2 separate regions of the Homo sapiens genome follow, and region 1 is linked to region 2. The links come from fine-mapping of genetic effects on plasma protein levels. A gene starts in region 2. The other region holds a variant in brackets. All regions are shown on one strand. Distances are from middle to middle.

Region 1 (2,500 bases), 63 kb before region 2:
TCTCCAAAAAAAAAAAAAAAAAGTACTAGTAGTTCAAAAATTGACTTTACACATTCTCACAGTCTACCATTTTTAGTAAAAAACATGAACCTTTAAGCAGCCTTATAAGAGATTTTCCATGATTAAGCTGGCAACTTTTAATGCAAATACTTTTTGCATATAGTTTGGTAAGTATTTCATTTTTTAAAAACAGATGCTGACAGTAAGTGATTTTAAACTTTTTATTACTACATAAAAGCCAGTCTGTGGTAGCTTTCTCACTCTTAGTTTAAAAGTTGATAAATTACTGTTTTAAAGATGAATTTTACCTTTTAGTTCCCTGTTCTCATTATTTACTAAATTCCTTTACCTAGGAAATCAAATAGGGAGACTGGGAAAAGTTCATTCAGAACTTCAGTTTGGATTAGACTGTGTGAGTATAAAATCAGATGCAGTGTAATTCTTGTAGCTTTCACCTCTGTCATATTTTTAAAGTTATGTATTCTCTTTAATTTTTTTTGTTGTTGTTGTTTTAATGAAAACCTGTGGGGAGCGAAGGTAAAAACTTGAGATTTTTAATTTGTACCTTGCCATCATAATCCTCTTACTATACTCAGTTACTATTTATGAACCATAATCAAAATGAGCCTAATTTCTTACTATTCTAGATACACACAATTTTATTCATTTTTGAGACAGAGTCTCGCTCTGTTGCCCAGGCTGGAACGCAGTGGCATGATCACAGCTCACTGCAGCCTTGATCTCCCAGCCTCAAGTGATCCTCCCACTTCAGCTTCTGGAGTGGCTGAGACCACAGGCACATGCCACCATACCCAGCTAATTTTTAAATTTTTTATAGAGATGGGGGGTCTCCCTATGTTGTCCAGGCTGGTCTCAAACTCCTGAGCTCAAGCTATCCTCCCACCTCAGCCTCCCAAAGTGCTGGGATTACAGGTGTGAACCACCACACCCAGCCTGTACATGTATTTTTACTTGAGTGTCACACATGGTTGCCTGGTGAACAATGGCACTCGAGGACTTTCTAGAAAAATATCAAGTCTTAACAATGGTGAAACCTAAGAAACGTGAATTAAAACACTCCTCACTTCAAAAATTGACATTCAACCCACATTCCTTTACATCTCATCACCACCAACTTACTGCAGTCATCTACTGCTAGACTGTTTTTAGCAAATACCCACCCAGAATTTGCTTTGTTGATTTATTTATTTATTTTTATTTTTTTGCATTTCTGTAATGATCAGGGAAGTAGACCACCTTTTTGTATTTATTGGCTATTTGGTTTTGGGTTTTGGTGGTAGTGGTGGTTGGTGTTTTTTTGTTTTTTTTTTTTTTTGATACGGAGTGTCCCTCTATTGCCTAGGCTGGAGTGAGGTGGCGCAGTCTTGGCTCACTGTAACCTCCATCTCCTGCATTCAAGCGATTCTCCTGCCTCAGCCTTCCGAGTAGCTGGGACTATGGGTGCGCACCACCACACGTGGCTAGT[TTTTGTTTG/T]TTTGTTTGTTTGTTTGATTTTTAGTAGAGACAGGGTTTCGTTGTATTGGCTAGGCTGGTCTCAAACTTCTAATCTCATGATCCATCCTCCTCGGCCTCTCAAAGTGCTGGGATTACAGGCGTGAGCCACCACGTCTGGCCTGATTTTTGTTTTTTTGAGTCAAGGTCTCACTCTCGATCGGACTGGAATGCAGTGGCATGATCACAGCTCATTGGAGCCGCCATCTCCCAGCTCAAGTCAGCCTCGTGAGTAGCTGAGACCACAGGAGTGCACCACCACGCCCAGTTTAAAAAAAAATTTATTTTTTGGCCAGGTGCGGTAGCTCACACCTGTAATCCCAGCACTTTGGGAGGCTGAAGTGGGTGGGTCAACTGAGGTCAGGAGTTCGCGACCAGCCTGGCCAAGGTAGTGAAACCCATCTCTACTAAAAATACAACAAAGGTGGCGTGGTGGCGGGCACCTGTAATCCCAGCTACTCGGGAGGCTGAGGCAGGAGATTTGCTTGAGGCCAGAGGCAGAGTTTGCAGTGAGCCGAGATTGTGCCATTGCACTCCAGCTCAGGCAACAAGAGCCAGACTCCATCTCAAAAAAAAAAAAAAAAAAAGTTTTTTAGAGGTGGGTGTCACCATGTTGCTCAGGCTGGTCTCAAACTCCTGAACGCAACAGATCCTCCTACATTGGCCTCCCAAAGTGCTGGGGTTACAGGCCACTGCGCCCAGCTTTCTTGATTTTAAATTCTAAGACATTGCTTTGGTCTCCCAAACATGAGCCTATCAGTAAAGCTTCAAAATAAGAAATCTTAATTTTGTTTTTCCATTTTCAGATTGTATTTTTTGAACACAAGGGCATGTTTTGGCATTTCATATTCAACCAAAAAGTAAAGTTGAAACCCTGTAAGACCGACCGTATTTAGTAATTGTGTTGCTGTCTGATGGGTTAAGCATTCAGGGATGGGCAGCCGGGGCTGAAGTGTGATAAGCCTTATTTTTTCCTAGTCCCGTTCCC
Region 2 (3,017 bases):
AGCCTGACCAACACGGAGAAACTCTGTCTCTACTAAAAATACAAAATTAGCCAGGCGTGGTGGCACATGCCTGTAATTCCAGCTATTTGGGAGGCTGAGGCAGGAGAATTGCTTGAACCCAGGAGGCGGAGGTTGCGGTGAGGTGAGATTGTGCCATTGCACTCCAGCCTAGGCAACAAGAGTGAAGCTCGGTTAAAAAAAAAGAAAAGAAAGAAAGAGAAGAAAAGAAAAGAAAGAAAGAAAGAGAAAGAAAGAAGAGAGAGAAAGAGAGAAAAGAAAGAAAAGAAGGAGGAAGGAAAGGAAAGGGAAAGGGAAAGGAAAGGAAAGGAAAGGAAAGGAAAGGGTCTCTGACCTCAGACAGGTTACAGTCTCACTAGGGAGACAAGGGTCAGGATTACGTGGGCGTCATTTTCCTCCTTACAGGCAGGCGGTGCCTCTCCCTTCAAAAGCAAGGGACCTTTATGCATGATTCCACATCTGCATTCCGATAGGAAAGGGAAACAGCAGAAACACAATACCCATCTGAGAGCTACGCTTAGAGAGGACTCTGGGCTTTTATTTATTTTTTTACTTCAGTCTTGTGACCAGTAATTTTAAGGGAAAGCCAATAATAATGTTTTTAAAAAGCCTCACGCCACCCCTGGCGGCATCTCCTCGGTGTACTTTGCTGTTCAGATCCGCCTGCCTTCTGTGCCAGCCTAACAGCGCCCGGCCTCAGCCCCCATTGTCCCTGGAGCTGGCGAGGTGTCCGGTTGCGGAGCCGGCGGCGTCTCTGGAAATGCATCCTGCATCCCCGCATGGATAACAGCTGCAGCTATGTCAGAATTGCACAAAGAGGGGAGAGTGTCATTGTGTGCCTTTTGACACATACATTAAGACCAAAAAGGAAAAAAAGCGTCTATCTGTGCTGCCACCGACCAGACTCATGGAGGCCAGATTTTCTCCAATTAACCAGATCTTGCCCTGGTGCAGACAAGACTTAGTGAGTTCGGAGGAGGGGTGGGGAGAGGGAATTGGCTGGGGTCCCTACCCTGGGTGGAAGGAGGAGGGAGGGGTTCCCCCTCCCCCTTCCCCTACCCTCCCCTCCGGGTTTAGGGAGGGGATTAGAGGTGGGGAGGAGCTGGGGGGGCGTTTGGCCTGTGCCCCAACCTTGTGAGTGAGGTGGGGGTTGGAGGTGTGCGGGGGGCGGGGCGTGTGCCGGGGTCGCCGCGGGATGGGGGGTTGGGGATGTGCGGGGAGAGGCGCGTGTCCCGAGATCGCGGGGGGTGGGGTTGGAGGTGTGCGGGTGGAGGGGCGCGCCCTGGAGTTGGGGGCGGGCGAGGCGTTTGCGGGCGCGGGGGGCGGGTTTGGAGGTGTGCGGGGGAGGGGCGTGCCCTGGAGTTGGGGGCGGGGCGAGGCGGGCTCCTCCCCGGCGGGCGGGCCCGGGCGCGGCGCGGTGGCCTCGCGGTGCCTAGGCTGGGGCTGCCGGACCGTGAGGCTGTGAGTCGCGCGGACGGAGCCGGACAAAAGCGGGCGGCGGCGGCAGGATGAACAGCATCAAGAACGTGCCGGCGCGGGTGCTGAGCCGCAGGCCGGGCCACAGCCTGGAGGCCGAGCGCGAGCAGTTCGACAAGACCCAGGCGAGCGGGCGGCGGGCGGCGGGCGGCGGGCGGCGGCGGGCGGGCGGGCAAGCGGCGTCCCTGACCCCTCACGCGCGAACGGCTGGGGCCCGGGAGGCGCCGGCCAGGGGCGGGGGACGGCGCGGGGGCAGGGCCTGTGTCCGCCCGGGCTCTCCGAGAGCTCCGCTGCCGCCCCCCGCCGGCCTCCGCGGCCCGAGCCGACCGGCGCGCAGGTGAACCGGAAGCCGCGCTCCCCGCTCCCGCCGGGCGCTCGGGCCCAGAGGCGCCGGGGCTGAGGGGGCCGGGGTCAGGGTGTGCGCGGGCCGGGAGCGCCGGAGCTGAGGCGGCGGGGGACGGAGATGGGGCCGGGGTTGGGTGTGCGCGAGCCCAGCGCGCCGGGGGTCGAGGGGGCTGGGGATCCAGGTGCTCCCGGGGCCGGCGCGGCCCGACTGGGGTCCCCGACCTTCCGTGCCGCTCCTTGCCGGCTCCTGCCCCCGTCTCCTACCCCCTGAAACCGATGCCCCCACGGGCAATTTCCTTAAAGGAAATTCCTTAAACTCCCAGCTTCCTTCTCTCGTGAGCGGTTTCCCAGGGCTGCACAGTCTCCTATTATTTGCTGGGTGAAAAGCTTCTCGTATGTCGCCAGACTTGTTTGCCCGAGCGCTGCCCACGTATAAATAGGTGCACACCCCCTCATTAAATACCGGCGCCCGACAGACAGAAACTTCCTGGGGCTCCCTTCCTGCGCCTCCCACGCTTGTAACTCTTCCAGATGATGCCTATCCTGGGAAGGCGTTAGAAATGAAATAAGGGCGCGGGTGTGCGTTTTGTACTTGTGTTTGTGCCGGGGACCCACGATGCAGACGTTGCTGCGTTTCTGGTTTCCTGTTGCTTTTTATTTTACAAACTCTTGAAGTGCTCTCAGGCTTGGGGGATGGGCGGTGGAGGGGGGCATACTTGTTTATTTGCCAAAATAAGTCAACCAAGACTGAAATGGCTGAAAAATTTTACTCTAGAGATAAAGGAAGCCAGAGGACCCCTCCCACTCCTGTCTAAAGCAGGTTGGTGACATTTGCGTTTGTGGCGGCTATTTGCAAGTTCCGTCCCACTTGTCCTTGCAGAGAGCTATGACTTCTGCGGTTGCCTTCACATCTAGTTAGCACACGCACTCTACAACAGCTTTCGTTTTGAAATGAGAGAGAACGCAGGGAGACCTTCTAACCTTTGTGCTTGGGATTGACCCAGAAAGCGATAATAAATCCTGAGGATATCAAGGCTTTAGAAATGCGAAGTGCTGGAACCCAGGTGGCTGCAAATTACCAATTTAGCCTTGTGATCTTCATCACCATCAACTGGTTCAGCCCGGATAGCCCGTCATTTTAAAAAAATTTAAAGTCACCAATACATAATTAATTGTGC

Which allele goes with the higher level. Positions count from the first base shown, and alleles are read on the strand shown. Strength reflects both the effect of a copy and how common the allele is.
As copies of TTTTGTTTG replace T in region 1, the plasma level of the protein whose gene starts at base 1,433 in region 2 goes up (weak association).

Evidence for each region. PIP is the chance, under the fine-mapping model, that this variant and not a neighbour inherited with it causes the effect. Protein levels are from antibody-based Olink assays in UK Biobank. Linkage for the fine-mapping came from a reference panel and not from the study's own genotypes, which makes the PIPs less certain.
Region 1: its variant is fine-mapped to the plasma level of the HIP1R protein (UK Biobank, PIP above 0.99).

What each region holds. Positions count from the first base shown.
Region 1 is chr12:122,771,401-122,773,900 of GRCh38, forward strand. No RefSeq gene overlaps it. Among named protein-coding and RNA genes, the nearest start is that of CCDC62, 1.9 kb to the right of the region's middle. The variant TTTTGTTTG/T (reference allele first, on the strand shown) is at 1,487.
Region 2 is chr12:122,834,025-122,837,041 of GRCh38, forward strand. It overlaps HIP1R (huntingtin interacting protein 1 related), which reads left to right and starts at 1,433. Exons shown (of 32, transcript NM_003959.3): 1 at 1,433-1,619. The coding sequence starts at 1,527. It overlaps LOC124903040 (a long non-coding RNA gene), which reads right to left and starts at 1,209. Exons shown (of 2, transcript XR_007063501.1): 1 at 1,150-1,209; 2 at 531-814. RefSeq lists an enhancer at 1,035-1,084 and silencers at 1,335-1,574, 1,745-1,944.